3 linked regions of the Homo sapiens genome follow. The protein of the gene in region 1 purifies or fractionates together with the protein of each later gene. This does not show direct contact. Each region holds a gene or a part of one and is shown in the gene's direction. Other genes may lie near its edges. The genes, in order: TTC1, SPSB1 and SULT1A3.

Region 1 (12,677 bases):
CAGACTGAGATTAAGTCTCAAAAAAAAAAAAAAAAAAAAAAGAATCTGGTACCAGATTTGACCAGAAAAGGGGTCTCAGTTAAAATGACGATTTGACATTATTATTACTTATGATAAGCTGTATTTTTAAATAATGAATTCCAGTGAAAGGAAATTACGGTGTGTTTTTTGGCTGTAATGCAGAGGTTTGTTTAGGTTTGAAACAGAACTTTTAAAAATACAAGCACCATTATATAGCAGTTTTGTTTTGTTTTCCCCCAGCTTTAGCGTCACCTCCCTCACTGGGCAGCATGGGGGAGAAGTCAGAGAACTGTGGGGTTCCAGAGGATCTGTTAAATGGTTTGAAGGTTACAGATACTCAGGAAGCCGAGTGTGCTGGCCCTCCAGTTCCTGATCCCAAAAATCAGCATTCCCAGAGTAAGCTGCTCAGGGATGATGAGGCCCATCTCCAGGAGGACCAGGGAGAAGAGGAGTGTTTTCATGACTGCAGTGCCTCATTTGAGGAGGAGCCAGGAGCGGACAAGGTTGAGAACAAATCTAATGAAGATGTGAATTCCTCTGAACTAGATGAAGAATACCTAATAGAACTGGAAAAAAACATGTCGGATGAAGAGAAACAGGTAAGTATTTTATTTATTGTGCAAGATCTGCCACTTACACTGCATTTTAAAATGTGGTCGATACTGTATCATAGACCACCTCATCTGTGGTAAAGAATAACTTGCCCCTTTGTCTTCTTATGGCTTTAGTAGTGTTGGATCTGAGATAAATCGGTGGCGTGACAGGGAAGCACTTGAGTGTGTCTGCTTAACAAAGAAATTTTCATTATTTTCTGTGAACCTTCAGTTATGTTCATCTTGTACTTCAGGAGTCTGTAATGTAACAGTCTTTTTGTTTATTTTCAAAATGTATATATACTTTTTAGTTTTCTGTTATGAACTTTTCTACGGTTGGCTGCTGAGATTTCTGTAATGAACATTTTTATGTTTATGCTACATTTATGTTTATGAACATTTCCTGTTTATGCTAATCCCTTGTTAGCAAAATATGACTGCCTGAATATCTTGGTGGGGTTTTGGTTGCAGAGGTCTTGAGAAACAGAATTGTGTATGATTATAGCTAGCTATCCTTTGTTGAATGCCTACAATGTGCCATCCACTGACTTAAAATGTTACTTGTGTTTTCATTAATCATCACAACATGCCTATGAGATACATACTGTTATTTCCCATAAGGAAACAGCTTAGAGGGATGAAGTAACTAGCCCAAGATCAAACACCTAATGAATTGCAAAACTAATTCTCAAATCAAATCTGTTGGATTCCAAAGCTAGAGTATAATGTATAATGTAATAACAAAAACATCTGTCTTCCTACAAAGCAGATAGACTAATAAAATGTACACTCTCCTGTTTCTTTGCCCTGGGGCCACACCCTTAACTGGGCAAGCCTTCACTTTTGGAGACTGAAGTCCTGCTGTCCTACTTCCTTCTGATTGCACAAGCAAGGTAGTCTCTGAAGAGTTACTGTAATGTCTTGAGTTTGTCTACAAAGAACTTGAACTAGATTGTAGTTTATGCCACTAAGGAGCTCACTCACTGAACAGGTTGTGATACATTGGTATTGAGATGAGATAATAAATGTTCAGCCTAAGCCTAACAGTGGGGGTGGGAAGGTAGCCTGGGGTGGGTAGGAGCATCTTCTCTTTCTCTCTCCTTAGACGCTTTTCATTATCAAATCAGTTAGCTTTAATGTGAACGTGTTCGTTTTTGTGCTAGTGTGCACCACCAGAACAGGAGGAAAAAGGGCAAAAGTGAGCCAAGTTCATAAACTACCACAGCAAATACAGCTCAAAAAAATTAACTACTGTTCCATAACATTATAACAGGTTTCAGGCTTTTTAGAAACACTGATTATGCATCTATGTTAAAAAGTTAGTAGTGCTTTTCTGATACCTTAATATATTTTGCCCTGAAATTATATTAATTTTCTAGTGCCCTCTGGATTTGACAGTTGAATGGTTTGGCTCAAGGTGTCACAAAGTCTGATCCCTACCTCTAATTTAGTAAAACTTTTTTTGTGTCTCCTAGGCCAGAAAATCATACTTTAAGTTCTATAAATACTTTTATGATTTTTTTTTTTTTTAAGACAGGATCTCACTGTGTCATCCAGGCTGGAGTGCAGTGATGTGATCACGGCTCACTGCAGTTTCAACCTCCTGGGCTCAAGTGGATCCTCCCACCTCAGCCTCCTGAGCACCTGGGACAACAGGCTTGCACCACCCTGCCTGGCTAATTTTTGTGGGTTTTTTGGTAGAGACAGTGTCTCACCATGTTGCCAAGGCTGGTCTCCAACTCCTGGGCTCAAGCAGTCCTCCCACTTTGGCCTCCCAAAGTGCTGGGATTACAGGCGTGAACCACCACACCCAGTGAGGATAATTATTTTTATTGCCTGTAAGTTTAATATTCTAAGTAGAACAATACTTTTTTTCACTTTTTTCCTCCTTTTAAAAATTGAGATATAATTTAGTGAAACTGTATATCAGTTCTCATGTGTAGAATGCAGTGAGTTTGACAATTGTATACACCTGCATAGTTCACGTTTCTATCAAGATAGAGAACATTTCCATCATGTCAGAAACTCCATTTGTGTGCTTTATCAGTCATTCCTTTCCCAACCCTGCCAGTCTCTGGTTAACCACTCTTCTGATTCCTGTCCCATAGGTGGTTTTTTCCTGTTCCAGACATTCATATAAACATAATCATACAGTAGTATTCATGTTTAAAACATAAATATTTTCTATTCATTTATATATCAGTCTAAGTGTTTTCATAGCTAATTTGAAAATTTGTAAGAATATCTCATAACAGTAACATACTGCAGTGCTAGTCTTATTATTTAGAGAAATGTAAGCCACTGACTCTACTTTAAGGAAACAACCTATAAGAGTGCAGATTGCCTTCAGCTAACTGTGGTACTACTCTTATTAGGTGTTTGTATGCTATTTTGATAAATATCTTTCCAAAATTTTCAAGAAGCCAGCGAAACAGATTGAAGAAATGTCTTCTACATATATGGTTTGGCTTTAATAGCTCATCAGAAACAGGATAGTGTTATATTTGAATCTTTTAAAATAAAGTTCAGATAGTTCAACAATGACTAAAAAAAAAAAATGGCCAAAAAATGTGAAAAGACTCAGCCTCATTAATAATGATGAAAAGTACAGGCTGGGCGTGGTGGCTCATGCCTGTAATCCTAGCACTTTGGGAGGCTGAGGCGGGCGGATCATGAGGTCAGGAATTCGAGACCAGCCTGACCAACATGATGGAACCCCATCTCTACTAAAAATACAAAAATTAACTGGACGTGGTGGTGTGCGCCTGTAATCCCAGCTACTTGGGAGGCTGCGGCAGGAGAATCGCTTGAACCTGGGAGATGGAGGTTATAGTGAGCTGAGATCAGGCCTCTGCACTCCAGCCTGGGTGACAGAGCAAGACTCTGTCTCAAAAAAAAAAAAAAAAATACTAACTAAAACATTATGTCTCATCTATCAGATCAGAATATTGATCTGATGTTGACAAGGAGAGGATGTTGGAACTCATATACTAATATTGAGAATTTAAATTGTTATGTCACTTCATGGGATGCAGATACCAAATTTTTATGTGACCATTTCTTTAGATAGGGCTATCAATAGACTCTTCTACAAGGATAGGAATGTTCTACATCCTGCACCATGCAGTATGGTAGCTGCTGACTACATCAGGCTATTGAGCACTTGAAATGTGGCTATTACGGCTGAGGAACTGAATTTTATTGTAATTAATTTAAATAGTCATACGGGATGGCTCACACCTATAATCCCAGCACTCTGGGAGGCTGAGGCAGGCAGATCACCTAAGGTCAGGAGTTCGACCCGAGACCAGCCTGGCCAACATAGTGAAACCCCATCTCTACCAAAAATTAAAAAATTAGCCAGGCCTGGTGGCGGGCTCCTGTAATCGCAACTACTCAGGAGGATGAGGCAGGAGAATTGCTTGAACCCAGGAGGTCGAGGTTGCAGTGAGCCGAGATTGGGCCATTGCACTCCAGCCTGGGAGACAAGAGCAAAACTCCGTCTCAGAAAATAAATAAATAGTCACATGGGCCAGGCATAGTGGCTCATTCCTATAATCCCAGCACTTGGGAGGCTGAGGCTGGAGGATCACTTGAGCCCAGGAGTTTGAGACCAGCCTGGGCAACATAGTGAGACCCTGTCTTTCCAAAAAAAAAAAAATTTTTTTTTAATTAAAATTTTTTAAAAAGCCTTTAAAAATAAAAATAATCACGTGTGGCACAAGCCTGTAGCCCCACCACTCAGGAGGCTGAGGTGGGAGGATCCCTGGAGCCTGGGAAGTCAAGGCTGCAGTGAGCCATGATCACGCCACTGCACCCCAGCCTGTGCAACAGAGTGAGACCTTGTCTCAAAATGAATAAATAAATAATTTTAAAATCGTCACATGTGGCTAGTAAGTACCATATTGGACATGACAGCATTAACGCTGATTCTCTTGTAGCCATTTATTTCAAGGAAATTATTAGAAATATACACAAATGTATATACATAGATGTGTTGCAGCATCATTCATAATTTTGGAAAGCTAGACAATGTTAAACAGGGTATTTGTAGTATAGTAAATTTATTTGGTCTTTGTCCCTGGTTCCTGTTACAGAGCCACTAGAACCCTTGGAATTTTCTGATAGTGTAGTGTATTTTTTTGTTATTCTTAATGTACCCCTTTTGATAACACCTGAGTTCATCCTAATGAGATAACTTTTAGGATCTGGCCTATCTATAGCCTAAGGAAGGATGGGGCCAGTCACCAAAAAGACTAAGTGATTAGAGTTTTAGAGGGTTGGAACTTTTGGCACCACCTACCAAAATCCAGGAAAGGAGGAGGGCAAGTGCTGGAGATTAAGCTCCATTAAAGCTTTTTTCTTCTTGTGTTTTGAGCCAAGTCTCGCTCTGTTGCCCAGGCTGGAGTGCAGAGGTGCGATCATAGTTCACTGGAGGCTTCAACCTCCTGGGCTCAAGCAATCCTCCTACATCAATGTCCCAAGTGGCTGGGACCACAGGCGCCTTCCACCACACCTTGCTAAATTTTTTTGTGTTTGAAATGAAGTCTTACTATGTTGCCCAGGCTGGTCTCGAACTCCTGGACTCAAGCAATATTCCCATCTCAGCTTCCCACAGTGCTAGGATTACAGGTGTGAGCTGCTGCGCCTGGCCTATAAAAACTCTTGAACTAGAAATCTGATGAGCTTCCAGGTTGATGAGCACATGGAAGTGTTAAGAGGGTAGCACCCAGAGAGGGCGTGGCAGCTCTGCACCCCTTCTCCCTCTACCTTTCCCTGTGTGTCTCTTCACCTGGCTGTTCTATATCATTCATAATGTCCTTTGTAATAAACTACTAAGTGTAAGTAAAGTGTTTCCCAGAGTTCTGTGAGCCATTCTAGCAAATTATTGAACCCACAGAGAGGGTGGTAAGAACCCTGTGCTAACCATTCAGTCGGAATCATAGGTCACAACCTGGGACTTGTGATTAGTGTCTGAAGTGGGGCCAGGCTTATGAGACTAAACTCTTAACCTGTGGGATCAGACACTGTCTACCTGGAGATAGTGACAGAACTGAATTGAATTATAGGACACTCCGTTGGTGTCCATTGGAGAATTGTTTAGTGTGGAAAACACTCTCATCTGGTGTCAGACCTATTGGGAGGGTATAGTAGGAGAGAAAAATGTGTTCTTCCCAGAGTATTACTTAAATTTTGTTGTTATATTTATGTAGTATACAATGCAGTTGTTAAAGGTAAATCTTGGCCGGGTGCAGTGGCTCATGCCTATAATCCCAGCACTTTGGGAGGCCAAGGTGGGCAGACCACTCAAGACCAGGAATTCAAGACCAGCCTGGCCAACATGGTGAAACCCCATCTCTACTAAAAATACAAAAATTAGCCAGGTATGGCGGTGCACACCTATAGTCCCAGCTACTTAGAAGGCTGAGGCACGAGAATTGCTTGAACCTAGGAGGCGGAGGTTGCAGAGAGCCGAGATCACGCCACTGCACTCCAGCCTGGGTGACAGAATGAGACTCTGTCTCAATAAATAAATAAATAATTTAAAAAATTTTTTTAAAAAGATGAATCGTAGGTATTGACCTGGGAAGCTGCCTGTAATATAATGTCAAATTAATTAATCAGGTTATACAACAGTGATGATTTCTTTTAAGGCTATGTGAAAATATGTTTATACATACAAATTTGAAGGATATACACCAAAGTATAAGCAGTAAGTAACTTTGAGAGGTATGATTATTAGGGAATTTTAATTTATATGTAATGCAATTTTGTAATATTTGCTTTTTTTTTCAGTAAGCCTGTATTACATTATTCCATTTTAAGAATATAAATAAATAAAAATTGATTACTTTACAACCAAACTGTGTGCCCTACCACAAAAGCACATGAAGCTGACCCCTGATGATTTGGGAAAGAAGTGCTATTCCGTACAGGGTCTATGTAGTATTAAAGGTTTCTTGTTGGACACAACCAAATAATAGTAGCCAAAGTCTGTTAATCAAGCTAACTTCACTTGTCCTGTGGCTGGGAAGATAATTCACGCTCAAGTGTAGTGTCACTTCTCAGCAGGACTCATAAATCAAGAATAATTGAGGAGGAAAGCAGTTAAGATTTGGTAAAAACAGGAAAAGCTCTCAGAGAGTATAGTGTATTCGTGTGTTTATTTCAGCAGTAAATCTTAACTATTTGTGAAAGCTTAAATGTAGATATAACTACCCACAGGAATGGAATTTTAGCTAACATTTGAGATGTACTAGGTATGTGAAGCAAATAACTGGTTCTGAGAGGCTTGGCTAAGGTGAAGGACAAATGTAGCAGCAGAAGAGAATTGCAATAATAACATTATGATACAAAAATTCTATCTTAGTGTGTTGGAGCTGCTATAACAAAATACCTTAGACTGGATAACTTATAAATAATAGAAATTTATTGCTCATAATTCTGGAGGCTGAGAAGTCCAAGATCAAGGTGCCAGCAATTTTAGTGTCTGGTGAGGGCCTCTTCCTTACAGATGGCACCATTTGTGTCCCTACATGGCAGCAGGGGCAGGGCAGCTCCCTTCAACCTCTTTTATTAGGACACTAATCCATTCATGAGGTTGGAACCCTTATGACTTAATCACATCCCAAAAGGACGCACCTCTTAATACCAACACAATGGGGATTATTTCAACATGAATTTTGGAGGGACACATTCAGACCATAGCAAGTGTTTATAGTATTAGGACCTATGGCACATACTGCAGAATGCTAGTATTGATTCCATAAGAAAATCGCCTTTTATGGACTGCTTGTCACAGTGCAGTTTCTTAGGTCTCATGTGTAAATTTCCTAGGTAATTCATATGCACATGCTGAGGCTTGAGGACCACTGTCACAGGTTTTGCACAATCTTCCTTCATTAAATAGCTGTTGAATGAATAGCATCTTTTTCTCCCCCATGAGAGCCAATAATTGGCCTTATAAGTTACAGAAATTTTTTTCTCACATTTATTCAAGTAATATTTACATTTCTTCCACCCACTAGACATTGTTTGAGGCCCTGAGGGATACAGTGGTGAACAAGACAGGGTTTCTGTTCTCTCATTGGAGAATTAGGACAAAATGTTAACATGAAGGATGGGTTGGGTTGGAAGGATGGTGCTATGGTTTGAATGTTTTCCTCCAAAATTCATGTTGAACTTAATCCTCAATGTGTAGTATTAAGAGGTGGAGCCTTTAGAAGGTGATTAGAAGAATTAGTATCCTTATAAAGTATACCAATAAAAGACTTGAGGGAACCTGTTGGGCCCTTCTACTCCCCTTCCACAAAGTGAGGATGCAGAAAGAAGGCACCATATTGAAGCAAAGAACAAGCCCCTTACCAGACGCGAAATCTGCTGGTGCCTTGATCTTGGAATTTCCAGCCCCTAGAGCTGTGCAAAATAAATTTCTATTATTTATAAATTACTGAGTCTGTTATTTTGTTATAGCAACCTGACTAAGACAGGTGGAGAGGACTGCTTTAGATTGGCTGGTCAGGAAAGCCTCTCTGGAGAGGTGGCCTCTCAACAGAGACTTAGGGGAGGGTGGCACTGGGAGCAGCCAAATGTGTGACCGTCTGAGAGGGAAGCATTGCAGACAAAGAGAGCAGTTGAATAAAGCCCTAAAGTAACAACAAGTTTGGTGTTTTGGCATGTTCAAGGAATGGAAGAGCCGATGGCTGAAGCATGATGATTAAGGAAGAGAGTGGGCTGATAGTAGGCAAGGGTCTGATTATGGAATAGTTCCTAAGCCGTAGTAAAGAACTTGAAGTTTTTTCCAAGTGCAGAAGGAAACAGATGGATAATTTTAAGCCAGGGAGAGACGGAAGTTATTTACATTTTAATAAGAGAATTCAGTTCTTATACAGAGAATGGAGGGGTATGAGGATGGAGGAGGGACATGAATAGAACATTTGAGCCCAATTAGGCTCTAATGCAGTAGCCCAGTGAAGATGATAGTAGCTTGAACTGTGGATCTGAAGAGAAGTGTATGATTTTGGGATATATTTCAGAGGTAAAGCAGACCACACATTGCAGTGGATTCGATTGGCGGGATGGAGTGAGACGTTAGAATGATTCCTTGTCTTCAGCTACTGGATGGATGGTGTGGCCTTTATTAATATGAAGAAGATGAAGGAACTTTGAACTTATCCAGGTTCTGGTGATTTAATTCTTTCCTGCAAACAAACATTTTTTATTTGTAAGCCAAAATGCAGATTTAGTCATTTCAATGGGTTTGCTCCCTTTCACTAGTGGTTTGCAAATGGTATTCATTTACATGTACACATAAGGGATCCAAAAGTCTGTTGCTTGGTGAACATGGATTCAGAATGCCTGGTATCTGGGATTTTAAAACATTAGGCTCTGAAAGTTTTAAGGATTATTCTTTAAGGTCATTTTCTCTTTAGGAACCATTATCAAAGCTTAGAAGTTTCAGTTTAGAACAGATGTTATATTTCAGTCTCTTCCCTCTGTCATTTTTCCTAAATTCCACATTACTTAATCTTTTGGATTTCCATGTTTCTGCCACCCTATTGCACCATTTTCATAATCTAATTAATGTTGTGGCTGTGGATGTGTTTGCAGGGAATACTCTCGATTGCTTCCAAAAAGTTCTCAGTAACTTCTTCCATAGTGGCCTGCATAGTCCTGTTAACGTCATGAGCAACCTTTCTGATTTTGTTGTTTCCCTTTTCTTTCATTCTTTTTTTTTTTTTTTTTTTTTTTGAGATGGATATTCCCTCTCTGTTGCCCAAGCTGGAGTGCAGCGGTGCGATCTCTGCTCACTGCAACCTCCGCCTCCCGGATTCAAGCGATTCTCTCTCTGCCTCCCGAGTAGCTGGGGCTACAGGCGTGTGCCACCACACCCAGCTAATTTTTGTATTTTTACTAGAGACTGGGTTTCACCATATTGGCCAGGCTGGTCTCGAACTCACATCATGATCCACCCACCTCGGCCTCCCAAAGTTCTGGGATTATAGGCATGAGCCACTGTGCCCTGCCTCCTGCCTCCCTTTTCTTTCATTTCTTGTTTTCTTTTTGTTGTTGTTGTTTTCTGTTTGTTTATTTTGAGACAGAGTCTTGCCCTGTCGCCCAGACTGGAGTACAGTGGCATGATCTTGGTTCACTGCAACCTCTGCCTCCCAGGTTCAAGTGATTCTCCTGCCTCAGCCTCCCAAGTAGCTGGGATTACAGGTGCCCACCACCACACCCAGCTAATTTTTGTATTTTTAGTAGAGACGGAGTTTCACCATGTTGGCCAGGCTGGTCTCGAACTCCTGACCTCAAGTGATCCGCCCGCCCCAGCCTCCTTTTCTTTCATTTCTAATAGGCATCCTTTGGAACTAAGGTGGTCAGTTTTACCAACTTCTTAGAGTTACCACTGTTGAACTTAATGCTGTCTACAAACGATTAAATCAAATCCTAGAAGGAGCTTAGATTTCTGATCCCAAGTTTGTTTATTTTTATTTTTGTAGAGGCCCTTTCACTTGGCCTCCCAAAGTGCTGGGATTACAGGAATGAACCACCCTGCCTGGCCTGATGCTAAGTTTAAACCAGTGGAAATAAGGGTTGCTTGCTCTAAAACAGGGGTCGTCAACCCCCGGCCATGTACTGATACCAGTCTGTGGCCTGTAAGGAACCCAGCCACACAGCAGGAAGTGAGCAGCAGGCTAGTGAGCGAAGCTTCATCTGTATTTACAGCCACTTCCCATCGCTTGCATTACTGTCTGAGCTCCACCTCATGTCATATCCATGGTAGCATTAGATTCTCGTAGGCTTGTGAACCCTGTTGTGAATTGCACATGCAAGGGATCTGTGTTGCCTGCTCCTTACAAGAATCTAATGCCTGATAGTCTATCACTGTCTCTCATCACCCCCAGGTAGGACCGTCTAGTTGCAGGAAAACAAGCTTAGGGCTCCCACTGATTCTACATTATGGTGAATTGTATAACTATTTGATTATATATTACAGTTTAATAATTATAAAGTACACAATAAATGTAATGTGCTTGAATCATTATGAACACCCCCTTCCCCAAGACCCTAGTCCGTGGAAAAATAGTTCCCCACAAGAGCAGTCCCTGGTGCCAAAAAGGGTAGGGACCGCTGCTCTAAAACATTTGGAAGTTAGTGAGGTGTGTTTACATTATTTGCTGGCAGAAAAGTTAAAATGACGTTCAGTATTTCCTGTGTTTATTAAGAAAGGTCACTTTGTGTAGATCAGTGGTTTCCAGACTTTATTGTGTCTAAGCATCACAGGAAATGTATTAACCATGCACAGCCTGAGAAGTGTCTGACACCACACACCTGTGAGGCAACAACCAGGCATCTGTTTTGTTAGCAAGCCTCCCAGGTAATTTTGATATAGGAAGAACTGTGGCCACACCATGGGAAACAGATCCAGATGGACACAGATGACTAAGCTTCCAAAACAAGAAGTATTGACCTAACCCGTACATTGACTGCATCCAACATCGGAAGAACTGAATAGGAGGTTTTCTTTTACCTACATCCGTTGATCAAGGTCTAAAAACAACTTGTTGGGCCGAATTTAAGCAGTCCTGACATAGAAAATTTATTTCTGTTAAAGATTGAGTTTTGGGAAATAGAATTTTCTGATTTAAGAAACAAGGGACTATTTCCAAGATTAATTCCTCATAGATCAGTCATTTTTTTCCTCAGAAGGATAACACCTACTGAGAGGCAGGTTCTAACTGTGGCTTAGATCCAAAGATCCTCCCTCATGCCTCCCTAGAGGACCTGTAAAGGTGACTTGTGGAAAGAACAGATATGTCTTTATGTATGTAAAGCAAGTGATATCTGATTTCAAAGAAGACAAAACCAAAAGCTTATTTTTTTAATGATAAGGAATTCCCTTCAAAATAATTATAGAACTGATGTCCCTAGCCCTTCCAGTATTTGCATTCCAAGTGTAGTTTTCTTGTCCCACCTAGATAAGACTAAAGCAGAAAGTTTTGTTGCATGTGCCTCCACTTTCCAGCAGTTGAGCAAGTATGTACCTCTCTTTACGCTCTCTTTTACTCCAGCTATTGATCTCTGGGTACTGTGATCCCTGGGTACTGTGCTTGGCATAAAGTGTATGCCGTTTTATTTTGTAGCAATTACTTCACAAAACTGCAGAGGGCAGCAGAGAGCTGCTGATAGATTTATAATATGGACATAAGCTTGCCGGAGTGAGAGTCTTGGTTTTCCCCCTGTTTGTCTGTTGAGCACATGCTTACCATAGGATTATTTAAATATGAGATTATTTTTTAAATGTATTTCATGCAAGTTTTTAACTATTTAATAATGATAGATGGGGTATACACTTATAAGCTCAAAGTCAAGTGTGTTTATGTTGTATTCACTGACCTAAAGTAAAAGAAATACCCTACTCAGCCACTGCATTGTAGTCTGCTGAAGAGTGGTTTATTTATAAGGGACTAGAGAAGCACTTTCTAACATTTTGCCATGCTACCCAGGATTTTAAATTATATCAGTTGAAGTTCTCTAGCTTGGATTTTTGGGTTTTTTGGAGGGTGGTTTTTTTGTTGTCAATTAAAAAATTATATTCAAGCTACTTCTAATATTTTAAGAAAGTGAATCAATCCATTTGAAGCTCTTAGCACAATGTTTGGCACATAATAAGTATTATGAGTTTTAGCTCATTGAATGAGTTACACAGCCATGGAATCAGGCATCTAATATAGTATAGGTAATTAAGCAGATAGGGGTACTATGTTAGTAAATAGGAAATTACAAGGTAAGATTATAGCCAAGTCATGGATATTTGCTTTACAGGAAGACTCTTCACTTAGCAATAGTAGCATACCATTTCCATTTTTCATCCTAACTAGTATTTACAGTAATTTGTCTTCTTTATAGAATATCTTCTTTATGTAAAGAAGTTTATAATATTTAAATCCTTGATTTGCTAATTTTATTCAGAAAGGACACTTGTAATAGTTTCCACCTTTATTTCTTTGTTAGTTAAATGAAAATTAACCCACATATGCTACAGATTCGGGGTAATTCTAG
Region 2 (9,816 bases), on another chromosome or scaffold:
CTGAAGGGACCCAGTAGATTTTGGTGTCCTGGATGCCAAGTGAGGAAGGGGCTTTCAGAAGGGCAAAGTAGCAGCAGGTCAAGTACATGGACGGCTGAGAACCGTCCATCAGCTTTGGCAACAAGGAATTGGCAGTTGACCTTGAGGAGAGTCACTTGGGTCAGGGGGCACGGGAGGAGCCTGATGGAGTGGCTGGAGGAAGACAGACAGGGTATTCGTCTCCTGGAGCTGCTGAACACATTACCACAAGCAGGACAGCTGAAAACAGCAGAAGCGCTCAGGAGGCCAGGTGTCTGCGATCAGGATGGTAGCGGGCTCGACTGCCTCCGAGCTCTGAGGGGGAGCCCGCCCCATGCCTCCCCTCGCCCCTGGGGGCTGCCGGGAATCCTTGGCGTCCCTTGGTCTGTAGATGCCTCCCTGAGTCCCAGCCTCTGTTTCCCCAGGGTGCTCCACCTGTGTATGTGTCTCTCCGTGGCCCCTCCTCTTCTTAGAGGGACACCAGCCATTGGATTCAGGGCCCACCCCAATCCACTATGCCCTCGTCATAATGAAGTACATCCGCAAGGCCCTGTTTCCAGATAAGGCTCCACTCTGAAGTTCTGGGCAAACATGAATTGGAGGACACTGGTCAACCCGCTTCAGATGTGGAGGCAGCCAGTGTAGACCATCTCCATGAGGCCTTCCTCTCCCTGTGCTGCCACCTGTGGGGGGTGAAAGATGAGCCCGGAGCTCCATCCTCTCACGTCACCCCTACCGATGCTGGGGTGCCCATAGTGAGGTCAGAGCCCACCCAAGTCCCCCGTCCCGGGAGAGTTGGCTTTGCCTTCCAATACAACTAAAGAAGGGGGGTGTCCTGGTGAGATCGAATCCCAGGGTCTGCCCGGGAGCAGAGCATGACAGATGGAGGCTCTGGCCAGGCATGGCTGGATCTGTCATTTTCTTTTTTTTTTTTTTTTTTTTTTTTTTTAGAGATGGGGTCTCACTATGTTGCCTAGGCTGGTCTCAAACTCCTGGGCTCCTAAGTGGTCCTCCTGCCTCGGTCTTCCAAAGTGCTAGGATTACAGGCGTGAGCCACCATGCCCAGCCGGATCTGTTTTCTTGGTGGCAGACCTGATCTGGGGCTTTGCTGTCTCTGTCTTGGAGGTGGAGGTAGTTCCACTCCCTGGGATATCTGGAGAATCATCAGTGTCCCCACCACCCCTGGATTCGACTTCCACGAGGGGCAGCTGTTTGTAGGGCAGCTCCAGCAGTTTGCCTGCGTGTGTGCCTTCCCGGGGGTCTCCCAGCCCACTGTCCCCTGTGGCCTCTTTCCTGCATGCCAGGCAGAACCCCCCCGCAGCAGAGTCCCGGCTTCTACACTGGGGCCGTGGCCGGGCGGAAGTAGGGGTACTGAGTTCTCGACGTTTCCCTGTGCGGCCTCCCCACTGTCCAGCCTGCTGGGGCCACAGGCCCCGTGCTCTGATTCCTCCTCAAGGCTCGAGGCACAAGGCCTTGTGCTGAGGATGCAGCCAGAGAGGCTGCTGTGTCACTCTCCCTCTCTCTCCTGGAGGGCAGGAGTGGAGATGGCCATTGCTGAGTGGGGAGACACAGGGCCTGGCCTGACCCCGGGCCTGCCCGCCACCCTCCCTGGAGATGTGGAAAGGCCTGTTTGCAAGCAGCAGGCTGGCAGGCTGTCCAGGGGGAGCCCCTGACCTTGTGGGTCCTCTGGCTCTACCCCCACTGCTTTAAAGACATCTCCCACTGAGGAGGCATCTTCCATGCAGTTCAGCATTTTCGAATTTTCTTTAACGGCTCCCAGATGGGTTTGGTGTGGTTTGTCGTGGTTGAAGGTTCAGGGAAGGTCAGCTCGTCTCCTCAAGATCAGAGCCTCCTCCCGGGTGCCTCCTTCCTGCACTCCACTCCAGCTGGACTCTGCCGGGAGCTACTCATCGGGAGACTGATACACCGCCACCAGGGCCACCCACCCTCCCTCCCTCCCTTCCTTCCTTCCTTCCATGTCGGGGAGGGGTTGTCCCAGACCCTATTCCCCACACCCTCCAGAAGTTCTGGTCATATGAGGACCGCAGGCTCTCAGAGTTTGGGGGGGATAGGGGACCAAGGGTGTCTGATCACCTAGGTGGATCTCAGGCGTCCTTCCCCAGTTGACAAGGACAAAGGCTCCACGTTGTGTTTGGCTGTGCTCTTTCGTAAGAACTGCGTAGTGTAGAGGAAAACACACACACATCCTATGATGGCCACCCGACCCGTGACATTCTAGAATCCATGTCCTGGAGCGTGGTCCCCACAAGCTGCTTGCAGGGCCAGCCACAGGAGCCATGACAGCTGTCAGCGAGGACATTGCGGAAGCCGGGGCATTCTCTGATGCGGAACATTTTTCCTTGACCTCACCGTTCTGCAGCTCGTTCACTCAGCCCGTGAACTGGGCACAGCACCACACTCTTGAGGCTTGAGTTGGGTTGAAATCTCTCGGGGAACAGTGAGACAGTTGTGGGTTGGGGCTCTGGGGCTGTGCATGTTCACGTGGGCCACCAGGTAGCCGTTTCTCACAGAAATGTGGAAGCTGGTGCACTGTCTCTTCCAGTTCCTCAGGCTTCTGCTCCCAGAAATAGCGCCTGATTGACTTCCTGATTTCTTTGCTGCTCATTCAGCATTGCACTCTCATTCACAGAAATTATTTAAATGAATGAGCGCCTAAGCTTCCTGGGGATGGGCATAGCAGCCAGAGGCCCCAGGCCACAGTGCAGGTGCCCACCCCCTCGGTAGATTTCAGCAGGCACCTGGGTTTGTGGCTGGAGCTGGGTGCAAAGCTGGCAGCCCCCAGTCAAGAGTGTGGAGGTTGGGGAGAACTCCCTGGTACTGGTAGTGACCAGCTGAAATGGGGGCTGGGCATTTTTTCACGGCACGAAGCCCACGTCTGTTTCTGTGGCCATGCATTCTTGGTCTCTGCCCAGCCTTTGGAAAGCAGTTAGACCGGGCCCTATGCGCCATCAGTTTCCTCCTGCAAGATCAAGGAGGCGTGACCTGTTTATGTACTTGAGGACCCAGAGAAGAGACCCATTCACAGGATGCCTGGGTGACTCTGGTCCTATTTTCAGCTCATAACACATCACTGCAGCCATTCACTGCCACTTCTCTAGCCCGTCTTGGTGGATCCCATGACCCATCCCTAACTGGTTTATTCAGTGAGATCCAGAGATGGCCAGGCTGTGGCAAGTCCTCTACCCCACACAGCTGCGTTCACAGGGGATGGATTGTGGCAGCTGGAGGGCCTCATCCCTTTGGAGTCCATGGCTCTCAGACCTTGGACCTGTAACTCTCACCTCCCCAAGCCCATTTCCCTATCTGTAGGTTGGGGTCACAGTCCCCATCAGGCACACGACTGGTGCCCCACAGGCCATGGCTGGGGCTGGGGCTGCGGTGTCAGCCACTCAAAATAAGGCACTGGATGGAGCTGGGGGCTCATGTGGGCCTCTGCAGTTTTAGAAAATTTTTTTTTTTTTGGAGATGGAGTCTCATTCTGTCACCCAGGCTGTAGTGCAGTGGCGCAATCTCAGCTCACTGCAAACCTCTGCCTCCCAGGTTCAAGCAATCCTCCTGCCTCAAACTCCCAAGTAGCTGGGACTACAGGCATGCACGACCACACCCAGCTAATTTTTGTATTTTTAATAGAGATGAGGTTTTGCCACACTGGCCAGGCTGGTCTCAAACTCCTGACCTCAGGTGATCACCCACCTCGGCCTCCCAAAGTGCTGGGATTACAGGCATAAGCCACCGCGTCCAGCCTAGAAACATTTCTTCATGGGTTGATTGGAAACCCGTTACACCAAGAGGGTAGTGACTGAACTCCCTCTCAGCCCTCACTGCTGCAGCCTGGCAGGGCTCTTGGGCCACATTCAGTGGCTCTTGGAGCTTTCTCAGGTGCTTTCCAGCCACGAGGGAGAGCCCCTCCACTTTCCGGCGGGGGCTGAGCCACATTCTCCCGGGAGGGAGCTCAGGGCAGCCCAGACCCCTTGGCCCTGATGCAGGCCAGATGCAGGCGCGCTCCCAAGCAGAGAAGAGAACACACCTGCAAATTCCCCACTCCTCTGTGCAGAAGACCTACTCCCGACAGCCAGGCCAGACCACAGGCTGCGATAAGCACTTCTGGCCTTCAGGATCTTGGCTGCATGGGACTTTGGGGAGAATCTGGTCTGGATTCCGTGTCTTACAGATGGGGAAACAAGTCCGGGCAGACGGAGGGATGTGCTCCAGGTCAGGCTGCGGGGCAGGGTCTGGAGTCACCAGGCTGGGTGTTTTACCCGAGGGAAACCCAACCCTGTGAGGAGCCGGGTGGGTGGAACCCAGTCCCACCCCATCACGAGGGGTCTGTGGGATCCTTGACCTTAAAGAACCCAAGGTTATTTCATTCCTCCATTCGTCTCCAATCAGAGCTCCTCTTAATCATCCTAAGCTGGCCACGAAAGGCCCCCTTTCAAAATTCTCCATTAAAAATACAGAACATTTCAGTTCCTTGTCAGGAGCTGTGGCTGTGACCGTCCATGGGGGATGAAGAGCAGTGGTCCCTCTTCTTTTGTTTATTTATTTTTTCAGTTTTGGGGTTTTTTTGTTGTTGTTTTGTTGTTGTTGTTGTCGTTGTTGTTGTTGGTTTTTCTGAGACAGAGTCTTGCTCCGTCACCCCAGGCTGGAGTGCGATGGTGTGATCTCGGGTCACTGCAACCTCCACCTCCCAGGTTCAAGTGATTCTCCTGCCTTAGCCTCCCGAGTAGCCGGGACTACAGGCCCATGCCACCATGCCTGGCTCATTTTTGTATACTAATTTTAGTAGAGATGAGGGTTCACCATGTTGGCCAGGCTGGTCTTGAACTCCTGCCCTCAGGTAATGCGCCGGCCTCGGCCTCCCGAAGTGCTGGGATTACAGGCGTGAGCCACCACACCTGGCCTGTTTTCATTTTTGAGACAAGGTCTCTGTTACGCAGGCTGGAATACAGTGGCACAATCACAGCTTACTGCAGCCTTGACCTCCTGGGCCCAACCGATCCTCTCGCCTCAGTCTCCCAAGTCCTGGCTGATTTTTATTTTTTGTAGCGATGAGGTCTCCCTATGTTGCTCAGGCTGGTCTCAAACTCCTGGGCTCAAGCAGTCTTCTGTCCTTGGCCTCCCAAAGTGCTGGGATTACAGGTATGAGCCACTGTGCCTGACCTGGTCCCTCTTCTTTTAAAGCTTGGGGTTTAGTAAATGCATTATCAAGCCTAAGGTCCATTCTTCTATTTTGTAACAGCTTTACTGAGCTATAATTCACATACCTTACAATTCACCCATTAAAGTATCCAATTCAGTGGCCTCTTGCGTGGTGAGATGTAGGAAACAATTTTAGAACATTTTCATCACCCCAAAAAGAAACCCTATACCCATAAGCAGCCTCTCTCCATTCTGCCATGCCCCACCCGTAGTGTTTGGTCTTCAGTAATTGATTTTCGTATATTTGAGACACATTGGTGAATATTAAAGAACTTTAATCCACTTTTTACTGGTAGGATGGAGTTTTGCGGGTTCCTTTTAGTTTTGGGGGCTATTTTGCTCACAAAGGAGTCTCAAAGTCAAGGGGAGACCGTGGATGAAGCCTCAGATCCATTAGTTTCAGGGCTTTCCATCTGCAGAACAGCGTGGGCGGCCCCACGAAGGTCCAGGTGTGCTCACTCCTACCTGGTTTCAGGAAAGAGAGCAAAGAGGGGTCTGCTCTGGCGAAGCGGGCGAGCAGGGCCGCGCAGCCTTCCAACGCTCAGAAGCCTTGGAAGGCATGAGTTTCAGACTCCTGAGATCTGAAGCTGACGGCTCATCTGAGATGCAGCTGAATGAACTCAGCCTCCTTTGTAGGAAGGCAAGGCTGGGCGCTCTGGGAACACAGGATGGAGGTGCCTGGGAGGCTGCAGCTGGAAGCGCTCTGTAACCCTGGGGCCTGAGGCAGCTCTGCCCAAGTTCCCCTGGCTGTGAGAGAGCCCCATGTGCCTGGGGCAGTTGCGGGGAGAAGGCCCAGGCAGCTCTGGGGGATCAGCTGAAACTGGGCTGGCATTTCCAGTTTCCTGGGGCCTGAGCTTGGCCTGGGCCCTCAGCCTCACTGTCAGACAGAAGCACAGACACCCGGGGTTTCTCTGTCTCCATGTGGCACAGAAATGACACCTTCAGGCCGTGGGGCCAGCCAGGCCTGTCACGTATGATTCAGGACAGGGTTTGCCATGTCTTCCTTTGCAGCATGGTTAGTGGCTAAGGGCATGGACGCTGGGCCCAGGCTGCCTGGATTCAGATCCCAGCCCTGAACCTTGGCACACTGGGTGTCCCCTCTGTGCCTGTGTGTCCTCAGTTCTTTTTTTTTTTTTTTTGGACCGAGTCTTGCTCTGTCGCCCAGCTAGAGTGCAGTGGCGTGATCTCAGCCCACTGCAACCTCCATCTCCCAGGTTCAAGCGATTCTCCTGCCTCAGACTCCTGAGTAGCTGGGATTACAGGCACACACCACCACGCCCAACTAATTTTTGTATTTTTAGTAGAGACGGGGTTTCACCATGTTGGCCAGGCTGGTCTTGAACTCCTGGCCTCAAATGATCCACCCACCTTGGCCTCCCAAAATGCTGGGATTACCAGCGTGAACCACCATGCCCAGCTAGTCTTCAGCTTTAAAACAGAGGTGAGAATGGTATCTGAGAGCAGCTGGTAACAGAAAATGATTCCCTTCCTGAAGCTAGTGCTGGGGGTGCGTGCCAGGAAGAGCTGGCTCCCATGTGTTCCGACCGACAGGCCCCAATGGCAGCTGCTTGCCTGGACAGGCAGAGTCACCAGTGGGGAAGAGCAGGGATCGCCTGGGTTCGAATCCTAGCTGCATCTCCTGCCAGCAGGGCGACCCCTGGCAAGTCATTTAGACTCTGTCCCTCAGTTTCCTCATCTGTAAAATGGGGATGAAGGTAATGGTGTCTCTGTGACTATTAAGTCATTCATAAGAAACCACTGTGAGGATTAAATGAGTGTTAGCAGAGGGCTCGCCCAGGTGCCCAGCCCAGGGTGGGCTCCTGGTGGCAGCTATTCACATGCTAAATTTAAAATGAAAAAGCATTGCATTTTTCATTGTTTCTTTACTGATTTGAGTGAATACTAATCAGTGATAATATTGCTGCTGTGGTTAGCGCTGTTTGCTGAACACCCACCCAAGCTGCGCTGACCTGCAGTTTCTCTGTCTCCCCAGCCGAGCCGCTGCCGCTCATGGATTTGTGCCGTCGCTCGGTGCGCCTGGCCCTGGGGAGGGAGCGCCTGGGGGAGATCCACACGCTGCCGCTGCCGGCTTCCCTCAAGGCCTACCTCCTCTACCAGTGACGTTCGCCATCATACCGCCAGCGCGACAGCCACCTGGTGCCAACTCACTGAGCCGCCTGCCGCTGGGGCCGCCGCACCCTGCACCTTGGACCGGCATCCGTAGCCATGGACAGAGGTCCCTGGTCTTCCCTCATCCTCCGTGGCTGCCTCCATGGGACAAGGACCGATTCCAACACAGGCTCCTCTTTCCCCCTTCCCGACATCAGCAGAAGGCAGCATCCCTGCATGCCGTCCGTATACAACCCCTCTTTGAAAAAAGACACAGAGAATAAACTCCTACGAAAGCCCTACATTGAGCTCCAATCTGCTCGGGGTGGGACGGGTGCTTCCCACACCTCTGGGAGAAGGCTGCAGCCACCTGGGGGTCCCAGGGTGGTGGGGGTGGCAGGTGGTACCACAGCTCTGAGAGCAGATACCAGGGGTACTAAGAGGTGCTTAGACAAGGGCTGGTGCCCGGCCCAGGGTGCCCAGCGGGGCCATGCCATGGCAGATAAAGCTCAGGACGTCAAAAACTCACCATGGACCCCAAGGCAGAAACCAAGAACTGTCTGCAGGCAAATAAGCACCCAGCACCCATCCTGGCTGCCGGTGCCCCGTACCCTGTATTTATTCTTTTAACAATAACAAAAGCCATTTATTTATTCCATCTAGAAAGGAAACCCTGTTTCAGTCCCCTCTCTCTGGCTGTTCTGTTACTTTCCTTCCACCTGTGCCCTCCCTGGGATATGTATGCCTCGCCCGCCCTCCCTGGGCACATGTGCACACGTGCCCAGGCACAAGTATGTCTCTGGGTCCCTTGCCCTGCAGTTTCCAGGGGGCTCTGCTCCAAGTTCCCTAGCGGGCCCCTCAGGGAGAAATAGCCTCACGTGCAATCTGGGTGTCTTCGGGGGCCCGTCTGGAAGGGCTGCAGCAATTCCCCTGTGTCTCCAGGTAACCAGCTAACTCTTGGGCTCAGGCACCCTTGCACAGGGTTGCATTTCTTTAGTCTTCTGTGGGTCTTTTGATGTGGGTTTGATTTTGCTTTTGCTTTTCTAGCTGAGATTTCCCAAGTGCATCCTCAGAAGCTCTGGGTGTGCCAGAGGACCCCCAGAACTAAGAAGGGAGGGCGAGTGGGTCTCCATTCCCCGAGAAGCCGGGGGCAGGGTGGGATGGGGAAGACCAGGAGCAGAGTCGAGCCTCACAGAAGCCAGCGCGGGTCTCTGCTCAGCACCCCAGCCGGGGCTCTGGACCCAGGGTAACAGCCCCAGTTCATCCCAACCCCTCTCAGAGCCTCAAGAGGGGTAGCTCGGCTGCCGGAAGAGAGGGGTGCCCTATCCCTGGCAACCCCTCCACGTAGCGTACCCCAGCACCTGCCACCGCCTTTGCCATTTCTTTGAGCTTGAAGTTAACTCTCTTAGAGTCTAACTTTGGTTCATTTCTGCACAGGTACAATAGATGACTTTATTTGTTTAAAATGTTTAATATATATACATACATATATATATATTTGTCTGTAAGAATTATGTTTTAAACAGCTGCTGTAGAGTACCTTTTTTTAAGTAAATCTTACAGTGGAGTATATTTTTTAAAGCACAAAATTGGTGCCAAGACTGGGTGAGAAATGTACATTACCCCCTTATTATTTTGACGGTTTTTTTTTTCGGGGCAGGGGACCTTACCTGTAAGACTTTTAAAGATTTTCCTCCCTCCTGTTTCAGGTGGGTCACATTCTGATGAATGTTTCCCTTGTACAGATCCCAGCTTATGGCCTTGACCCAGCCGTCCTCACAGATGCCGGGTGACCCTCTAGCTCTCTCTGCATCTCCCACCCCCCGACACCCTGGGACCCTCGACCCCACCCTTCTTTCCTACCAGCCCAGAGCCTTGTGGCTTGTACAGTTTTGAAACTCCCGTTCTATTTTATGATGGTTGATAATAGTCAGTAACCTAATAAAGGAACGTTTGTTAAAATATCAAACCATTTTTGAATTCCTCGTTTGTGCCTCGGGGGAGGGGAAAGAGACATAGCTGACCCCTCCTGGGTCCAGCCAGCTCCACGGCCCACAGTTTTCAGCAGATGATGGGCTGACTCCCTACCACCCCTTGGCAGAGGGTGGGATGCCAGGCAAAGCCCCAGACAGAGAAGGAGAAGGAGAGTCCTGGAGGGAGGACCCCAGAACAGCCTCATCCCCATTTCAGAAGTTCCTCAGCCTGGCAGCCCAAGCTGCAGAAACTTGCCAAGTCTAACAGACAGTGATTCTGTGCCTTCGTGAGCGCATCAGGTTGGTTTGTGGGGTTGTAGAACTTGAGTTGACCGTGGGCTTTTTAGGAGCAGAGTGTGAGCCATTGTGGGCGTCCTCAGAGTCCAGGCTCTAGGGGAAGGAGCAGGTCCTTCATTCGTCTTTGTGTCCCCTGGGGCTGAGTGCACGGTGATGTTTGCTGAACTGTTGCAGAGTGAACTTGTTCTGCTAGCCATGT
Region 3 (8,233 bases), on another chromosome or scaffold:
GGGCCCCGCGCTACGAGGGTGCTTTCACTGGTCTGCACTATGCCCCAGGCCCTGGGATTTTGAACAGCTCTGCAGGTGACTGAAAGGTGCGGCCAGGCTGGGGAACGACCTGGTTTCAGCCCCAGCCCCGCCACTGACTGACTTTGTGAGTGCGGGCAAGTCACTCAGCCTCCCTAGGCCTCAGTGACTTCCCTGAAAGCAAAAACTCTGCAAAGGGGCAGCTGGGTGCTGGCTCACACCTGTAATCCCAGCACTTTGGGAGGCTGAGGTAGACAAATCACTTGAGGCCAGGAGTTCTAGACCAGCCTGGCCAACATGGTGAAACCCCATCTCTACTAAAGAAAAAAAAAAATTAGCTGAGCATGGTTGTACATGCTTGTAATCCCAGCTACTTGGGATGCCGAGGCGGGAGGATTGCTTGAACCCAAGAGGTGGAGTTTGCAGTGAGCTGAGATTGTGCCACACTGCACTCCAGCTTGGGTGAGAGTGAGACTCCATCTCAAAAAAAAAAAAAAAAAAGAGAGAATCCCACTTTCTTGCTGTTGTGATGGTGGTAAGGGAACGGGCCTGGCTCTGGCCCCTGATGCAGGAACATGGAGCTGATCCAGGACACCTCCCGCCCGCCACTGGAGTACGTGAAGGGGGTCCCGCTCATCAAGTACTTTGCAGAGGCACTGGGGCCCCTGCAGAGCTTCCAAGCCCGACCTGATGACCTGCTCATCAACACCTACCCCAAGTCTGGTAAGTGAGGAGGGCCACCCACCCTCTCCCAGGCGGCAGTCCCCACCTTGGTCAGCAAGGTCGTGCCCTCAGCCTGCTCACCTCCTATCTCCCTCCCTCTCCAGGCACCACCTGGGTGAGCCAGATACTGGACATGATCTACCAGGGCGGCGACCTAGAGAAGTGTAACCGGGCTCCCATCTACGTACGGGTGCCCTTCCTTGAGGTCAATGATCCAGGGGAACCCTCAGGTGCATGGCTGGGTCCTGGGGGTAAGGGAAGTGGAGGAAGACAGGGCTGGGGCTTCAGCTCACCAGACCTTCCCTGACCCACTACTCAGGGCTGGAGACTCTGAAAGACACACCGCCCCCACGGCTCATCAAGTCACACCTGCCCCTGGCTCTGCTCCCTCAGACTCTGTTGGATCAGAAGGTCAAGGTGAGGCCGGGCTCAATGGTTCACACCTGTCATCCCAGTTTGAGACTGAGGAGGGAGGATCCCTTGAAGGCGAGAGATGGAGACCAGCCTGGGCAACATTGCTGTAGAGATGACATCCCATCTCTACAAAAATAAAATTAACAACCTGGTATGGTGGCATAGACTGTTCCCAGTTACTTAGGAGGCTCAGCGGGGAGGACTGTTTATGCAAATAGGAAGCTGCAATGAGCCCTGATGATCCTGCTGCTGCACTCCAGCCTGGGCAACACAGCAAAACCATCTCTACGAAAAAAAAAGTTCCCACTGACTGGCAAGGAAAGCCAGGAAGGGGGGCTCAGGTGCCCTCTCAGCCATGTACCTGTTCTTCTGGAAGGGCCTCCTCGCTTCTGCCAGGCTCATCACATCTTTTTTTTTTTTTGAGACAGAGTCTTGCTCTGTCACCCTGGCTGGAGTGCAGTGGCATGATCTCAGCTCACTGCAACCTCCGCCTCCCCAGTTCAAGTGATTCTCCTGCCTCAGCCTCCTGAGTAGCTGGGATTACAGGCGTGTGCTACCACACCCGGCTAATTTTTGTATTCTTTTTAGTAGAGACGGGGTTTCACCATGTTGGTCAAGTGGATCTCAAACTCTTGACCTTGTGATCCTCCTGCCTCGACCTCACAAAGTGCTGGAATTACAGGCGTGAGCCACCGCGCCTGGCCCTTTTTTTTTTTGAGACAGTTTCACTCTTGTTGCCGAGGCTAGAGCGCAATCGTGTGATCTCGGTTCACTGCAACCACCGCCTCCTGGGTTCAAGCAATTCTCCTGCTTCAGCCTCCCAAGGAGCTGGGATTACAGGTACCTGCCACCACGCCCGGCTAATTTTGTATTTTTAGTAGAGATGGGGTTTCACCATGTTGGTCAGGCTGGTCTTGAACTCCTGACCTCAGGTGATCTGGCCACCTTGGCCTCCCAAAGTGCCGGGATTAGAGGCATGAGCCACCACGCCCAGCCTTCATCACATCTTGAGAGAGGACACTGTCTGCCTCTTGCTCTGATGAGGGTCTGATGCAAGGATAGTGAGTCTCTACAGTGCACACTTAAGAAAGGCAGCATGTGGGTGCTCACAGGTCAGCGGAGGAGGGGGAGCTGGTGGGGACCAGGCATGCCTTGCTCCAGATCAGGATATGATGGCATTGGTGCAGATTATATTAGTATAGAATATGGTCTCAGGAACCAGGCAGGACTTTGGCTTCCGAGCAGGGTTCAGATCCCAGCTTGGCCCTACCTGTGCAGTGAGATCTCAAGCAAGTCAGCCTCTAAGCCTCAGGTTCCTCCTTTGCCAGTTCAACAGATGAGCTGGCCTGGGGTGGGCTGTGTGGTGATGGTGCTGGGGCTGGGTCCTCTGCCCCTGCAGGTGGTCTATGTTGCCCGAAACCCAAAGGACGTGGCGGTCTCCTACTACCATTTCCACCGTATGGAAAAGGCGCACCCTGAGCCTGGGACCTGGGACAGCTTCCTGGAAAAGTTCATGGCTGGAGAAGGTGGGCTTGACTGGAGGAAGGAGGGTGTGAAGCCGAGGGGTGGTGGCTATAACGTACAGCAACCCTGTGTCGGTGCCCCCTGCCCGCTTCTCTAGTGTCCTACGGGTCCTGGTACCAGCACGTGCAGGAGTGGTGGGAGCTGAGCCGCACCCACCCTGTTCTCTACCTCTTCTATGAAGACATGAAGGAGGTGAGACCGACTGTGATGCTTCCCCCCATGTGACACCTGGGGGCAGGCACCTCACAGGGACCCACCAAGGCCACCCAGCCCCGTCCCTGGGCGGCTCCCACAGCAAGCCCGGATTCCCCATCCTACCTCCCTGGCCCAGGCCCCCCCACTGCAGCCCCACCTGGCAGCAGGCTCGGCACAGCTTTCATCTTCTGCACCTGAGTCAGCTGCATGGGTGGCCACGGATCAGATACTTAGTCCTATTGCTTATCCTCACCAAAGGGTGTGCCACCCAGGGCCACAGTCATGGAAGAAGACCATCCCGGTCCTCACCCATAGGCGCCAAGCCCTGTTCATGATGGGATCACAGGGCAGAGATCAATTCATTTTACTCCAGAGACTAGGGCCCCAGGGGTTGAGGCTCTTTGGGGTTTCTAGGGGAAGTGGCCAGATCCCCTCTGAGGTTAGAGAGGGGGACCCGTTTTGTTTTGCTCCACTGAGGAGCCCTCTGCTGCTCAGAACCCCAAAAGGGAGATTCAAAAGATCCTGGAGTTTGTGGGGCGCTCCCTGCCAGAGGAGACCATGGACTTCATGGTTCAGCACACGTCGTTCAAGGAGATGAAGAAGAACCCTATGACCAACTACACCACCGTCCCCCAGGAGCTCATGGACCACAGCATCTCCCCCTTCATGAGGAAAGGTGGGTGCTGGCCAGCACGGGGGTTTGGGGCGGGTGGGAGCAGCAGCTGCAGCCTCCCCATAGGCACTTGGGGCCTCCCCTGGGATGAGACTCCAGCTTTGCTCCCTGCCTTCCTCCCCCAGGCATGGCTGGGGACTGGAAGACCACCTTCACCGTGGCGCAGAATGAGCGCTTCGATGCGGACTATGCGGAGAAGATGGCAGGCTGCAGCCTCAGCTTCCGCTCTGAGCTGTGAGAGGGGCTCCTGGAGTCACTGCAGAGGGAGTGTGCGAATCTACCCTGACCAATGGGCTCAAGAATAAAGTATGATTTTTGAGTCAGGCACAGTGGCTCATGTCTGCAATCCCAGCGATTTGGGAGGTTGAGCTGGTAGGATCACAATAGGCCACGAATTTGAGACCAGCCTGGTAAAATAGTGAGACCTCATCTCTACAAAGATGTAAAAAAATTAGCCACATGTGCTGGCACTTACCTGTAGTCCCAGCTACTTGGGAAGCAGAGGCTGGAGGATCATTTCAGCCCAGGAGGTTGTGGATACAGTGAGTTATGACATGCCCATTCACTACAGCCTGGATGACAAGCAAGACCCTCCCTCCAAAGAAAATAAAGCTCAATTAAAATAAAATATGATTTGTGTTCATGTAGAGCCTGTATTGGAAAGGAAGAGAAACTCTGAGCTGAAAGAGTGAATGCCCGGTGGGGCCACATATGGTCACCTCTCCCCCAGCCTTCAGCTCCCCAGGTCACCATATCTGGGGAGGGGAGAAGGGTTTGGAGAAGTAAAACCCAGGAGATGTGTGGAGGGGGGATGTCTGTTTAATCCCAGCACATCCTCTGCTGTCCTGCCCCAAGATGGTGGAGGACGTCGAGTCCGCCGGGCAGCGTCACTTTTTCTTGGGCTCCTTAGAAGCTACCAGGTACCTCTGGGCCACACTGAGATGAGGGGAGTAGCCGTCTGCATAGGAGGTGTCTTCAAACAGGATAGAATAGTCCTCCTGGGGCTGTGGGGCAGGTGGACAGGAAGGGCAGAGAGCAGCCCCGGGGCTGGTGTCACTCACTTGTTGGTGGCATGGCTGTAACTGACCACCTCGGCCAGGATCCACTGCTCATCCCCATCCACGGCCTTCACCCGGGCAGCCACCTTGTCTCCAGGTCTGGCCACGTAGTCTCCTGAGGCAGGGATGGCCCCACAGAGGGGTGGGGGCCTGTGAGTGGAACAAAGGATCAGTCCCAGCCCCTGGGCACCAGCCCCTTCCTCGCAGCTGCTGCCCTCACTTGTCACCAGGCTTCCCAATCCACAGGGGCAGGGTCATGGCCGACTGCTGCAGCAGGGTCATCAGCACCCCTCTGCGCATGGTCTTCCGGGGTGGCTCCAAGTCATTGTAGAGACCCGCGATCTTGGCCACTGTGGGAAGAAAGGGAGGCCTGAGGCCCCAGGGACAGGGGCTGGCCCTGACCCCCCAGCATGCTGAACTGAGCTGCTGGAGGAGCACCTGGGAGCCCCCAGCTCCCGAGTGAGCCCGAGGGCACAGCAGGACTGTGACCTGATCTGCCAGGTGTCCTACAGGGGCTGCTGCGCTCAACTACATATGGGTGAGACGGCAGCACACCAGGCACCCAGGGGAAGGAACCAGGGAGGGACAAAGCGGGTTCTGAGGTGCTGGTGAGGTTCTCTTCTTGATGTCGGTGCTGACACAGAAGTGTGTTTCGTTAGTGAAAAGTTCCTAAAATTCGAAGGGTCCCGCGGGAATCGGGGCGAGGCCGGGTGCCTCTTCAGCGTCCAGCTGCTCTACTGCCTGAATCCCTGGTACCCGGGCCCTGTCTACGTGGGGCTCACTGTCAACCCTGTTCGTCCAGCAGCACAATGGTGGCCGCAAAAAAGGCGGGGCTTGGCGGACCATTGGCCGAGGTCCCTGTTAAGAGGGGGAGGGTCTCTGTGCCCGGAGGAAGGCTCCCTGGAGGAGGCGGAACCGGGGGGCACAAGCCTGCTGAGAGGGACCCACTAGGTCTGTGACGTGCGCGGGACGTCCCGGGCGAGGCCTGTTGGTGGGGGGAGGCTGTCGCAGGGGAGGAGCCTAACGGGGAGGCGGTGCCCTGGGAATCTCGGCGTTAGAACTCCGGAGAGCAGCTGGCTGAGGCGAGGGTGATGATCCAGGCTGGGGTCCAGCGCAGGGGTCTTGGGGGGCACGCTGGGGTCGGGTGGAGCGCAGGAGGGAGAGGAATGAGAACAGGTGGGTACCTGGGCTGGAGGCGGGACCTGAGGTGGGCAGGTGCAGGGGGCGTGCCTTCAGGCAGTTGCGGGGCCAGGGCTCGGCTGAAGCTGGGAGTGAGGACCCCGTTCTCCGGTGGGATAGGAGGGGACCCGCGATGCTGGGCTGCGCTGGCGGTAGGGCGCGGCGGGGCTCACAGGAACATTCCTGTTCTCCTCCCCATGGAGATTGTGCTCGTCGTGCACGGCTTCCCATCCGCCGCGGCCGCCCTTCGGGTAAAGAAGAAGACCGGGCGGCGGCCTGTGGCCTGGATTTGGGGTCCGACCCCCGCCCGGAGCCGCCTTGACTCCAACCCCGCCGCGGTTGGAGGGGGCCTGGCACCCCCGCCCTGGGCGCTCCTCCCGGTCCCGTTGCGCCCCGACCTCCGTCAGCCGCACGGCACTGGCCACTGACCGTCGGGCCTCCTCCGCCCCAGGGCGCCGCGCAGGTCCCTTTGCTGACGCCGAGCCTGAGCCTGAGCCGGTCCCGGGGTCCAAGAGGGCTGTGTGCACCCTGCGCGTCCGCGCGCTCCAGGGGAGGTGCGCTCCAGGGGAGGTCCGCCCCAAGCAGAGCGGCACATCCTCCAGACGACTTCGGATCCTGCTGTTGAGGAGCCAGGAAACGCCCTGACACTGTTGCGGCCCTGTCCACATCTCTAAGATGGGGATGGATGATAGTACTTCTGGCCATTCCTGAGCACAGCAGGACCTGCCTTTTCCCTTTGACTGGAAGGTTCTTCTCTACATCTTCAGTCTTGATAACCTGCCACCTCCACAGGGAGGTCTTCCCTGGCTCCCAATTTAAAATTGCAGCTCTGAGAAGCCGGGCATGGTGGCATATGCCTGTAGTCCCAGCTACGGGGGAGGCTGAGGTGGGAGGATCGCTTGAGCCCAGGAGTTGGAGGCTGAAGTGAGCTATGATCACTCCATTGCACTCCAGCCTGGGGGAAACAGCAAGACCCTGTCTCTAAAAAAATAAAATACAATAAAATTGCGGCTCTTTCTTGTGCACTTCCCTGCCCGCCCCCCTTTCCTGAACCCTTATTATTTTCTGCCATACTACAAATTTTATGCATCTCATTAAACCCCTTCCGAACCTGTGTACTAAACTGCCTGGGGGCAGCTCTCATCACTGCTGTAGAACAAAGTCCCACATAGAGCCAATGGCCAAGAAACAGTTAATAAAATAACAGACGATGGTCCTGGCCTCTACTGTGAGTGAGTAAAGGGCTTGCCCTGCAGAGATTCAGTGATCTGGCGGGGGTTGCTGAGCTATGAGGAAGTTCAGATCTGGCTGCAGGGGTGAGGCTGTGACTCAGTCAATCACTGCCCATGCTCACAGGACACTGGCCAGCTTAGTCCCTGGGGGCAAGGATTTTACCCCCCCCCCACCTCCATTTCCTCATCTCTAAGATGTGAATAATCGTCGCCCCTGCCTCACAGGATTGAGCTGTGTAACCCCCCTCCCACCTTTTTTCTATGCCATCCACTGCGGGTCTGGGGCTTTTTACTGGAATGCAATACAAAGTCTGAGTCAAGGGTGCCTTCTGTTGGTTGCTGAGGGCGGAGGCAGAGCTAGTTGCCTGTGGTCCTGCCAGTCAAGGGGCTTCCAGAGGAGGGAGGAGGGGCCTGTGGCCCTAGCATGTGAGCAGCTTCTCCTCTGCCTGGAAGCCGGACGCCTCAGCTTCTCCCACACTCCCACCTGCCCGCTTGCCTCTGAATTCACACAATTCTTGGAAGGCTTGGGAGACTCACCTTTACTCAAATGGTTACCTGTCTCGTGTCTCGTGCCCAGCTTGACCTTTTTTTTTTTTTTTTTTTTTTTTGAGTTGGAGTCTTGCTGCGTCACCCAGGCTAGAGTGCAGTGGCGTGATCTCAGCTCACTGCAATCTCCGCCTCCCGGGTTCAAGCAATTCTCCTGCCTCAGCCTCCCCAGTAGCTGGGATTACAGGTGCCCACCACCGTGCCTGGCTAATTTTCGTATTTTTAGTAGAGACAGGGTTTCACCATGTTGGCCAAGCTGGTCTTGAACTCCTGACCTCGTGATCTGCCCACCTTGGCCTCCCAAAGTGCTGGGATTACAGGCGTGAGCCACCATGCCTGGCCCCAGCTTGACCTTGAACTTTAAATAGTGAAGACAAAGAATGAGGAGGGTGGGGGGATGCCCTCCTTCCACAGGGCCCTGTGGCTTCCAAGCCTCAACCTCCTCTGGTCTCTTGTCTGTGGAGCCTCCTTCAAACCCAGGGAAACAAAAGCACCTGCCACGGGCTGCTGTTTTTCTAGGATCTTCTAGCGAAGCTCTGTAACTTCCCCTGAGAGCCATGAAACTGGGCTGGCTCCCAGGGTGATGGGACTCCAGCGTCTTTGTTCTTTCTTGTTCTATGCATCCATGCTCTGCTCCACCGCTGCCCCTTCAACTCTGCCCACACATATTA

What was found.
Region 2: the proteins of TTC1 (region 1) and SPSB1 purify together in Homo sapiens (co-immunoprecipitation; 2 studies listed by BioGRID and IntAct, with this or other methods). This does not show direct contact.
Region 3: the proteins of TTC1 (region 1) and SULT1A3 purify together in Homo sapiens (affinity purification with mass spectrometry, with the first as the bait; 2 studies listed by BioGRID). This does not show direct contact.

Annotation. Positions count from the first base shown.
Region 1 is NC_000005.10:160,010,239-160,022,915, forward strand, and holds part of TTC1 (tetratricopeptide repeat protein 1), read left to right. Parts: intron 1-261; 5' UTR 262-290; coding exon 291-620; intron 621-4,420; exon of another isoform or gene 4,421-8,793; intron 8,794-12,677.
Region 2 is NC_000001.11:9,360,217-9,370,032, forward strand, and holds the end of SPSB1 (SPRY domain-containing SOCS box protein 1), read left to right. Parts: intron 1-7,231; coding exon 7,232-7,359; 3' UTR 7,360-9,316; downstream 9,317-9,816. UniProt on the Homo sapiens protein: Substrate recognition component of a SCF-like ECS (Elongin BC-CUL2/5-SOCS-box protein) E3 ubiquitin-protein ligase complex which mediates the ubiquitination and subsequent proteasomal degradation of target proteins.
Region 3 is NC_000016.10:30,200,136-30,208,368, forward strand, and holds the end of SULT1A3 (sulfotransferase 1A3), read left to right. Parts: intron 1-589; 5' UTR 590-593; coding exon 594-741; intron 742-845; coding exon 846-971; intron 972-1,060; coding exon 1,061-1,158; intron 1,159-2,554; coding exon 2,555-2,681; intron 2,682-2,776; coding exon 2,777-2,871; intron 2,872-3,369; coding exon 3,370-3,550; intron 3,551-3,672; coding exon 3,673-3,785; 3' UTR 3,786-4,175; downstream 4,176-8,233. UniProt on the Homo sapiens protein: Sulfotransferase that utilizes 3'-phospho-5'-adenylyl sulfate (PAPS) as sulfonate donor to catalyze the sulfate conjugation of phenolic monoamines (neurotransmitters such as dopamine, (R)-adrenaline/epinephrine, (R)-noradrenaline/norepinephrine and serotonin) and phenolic and catechol drugs.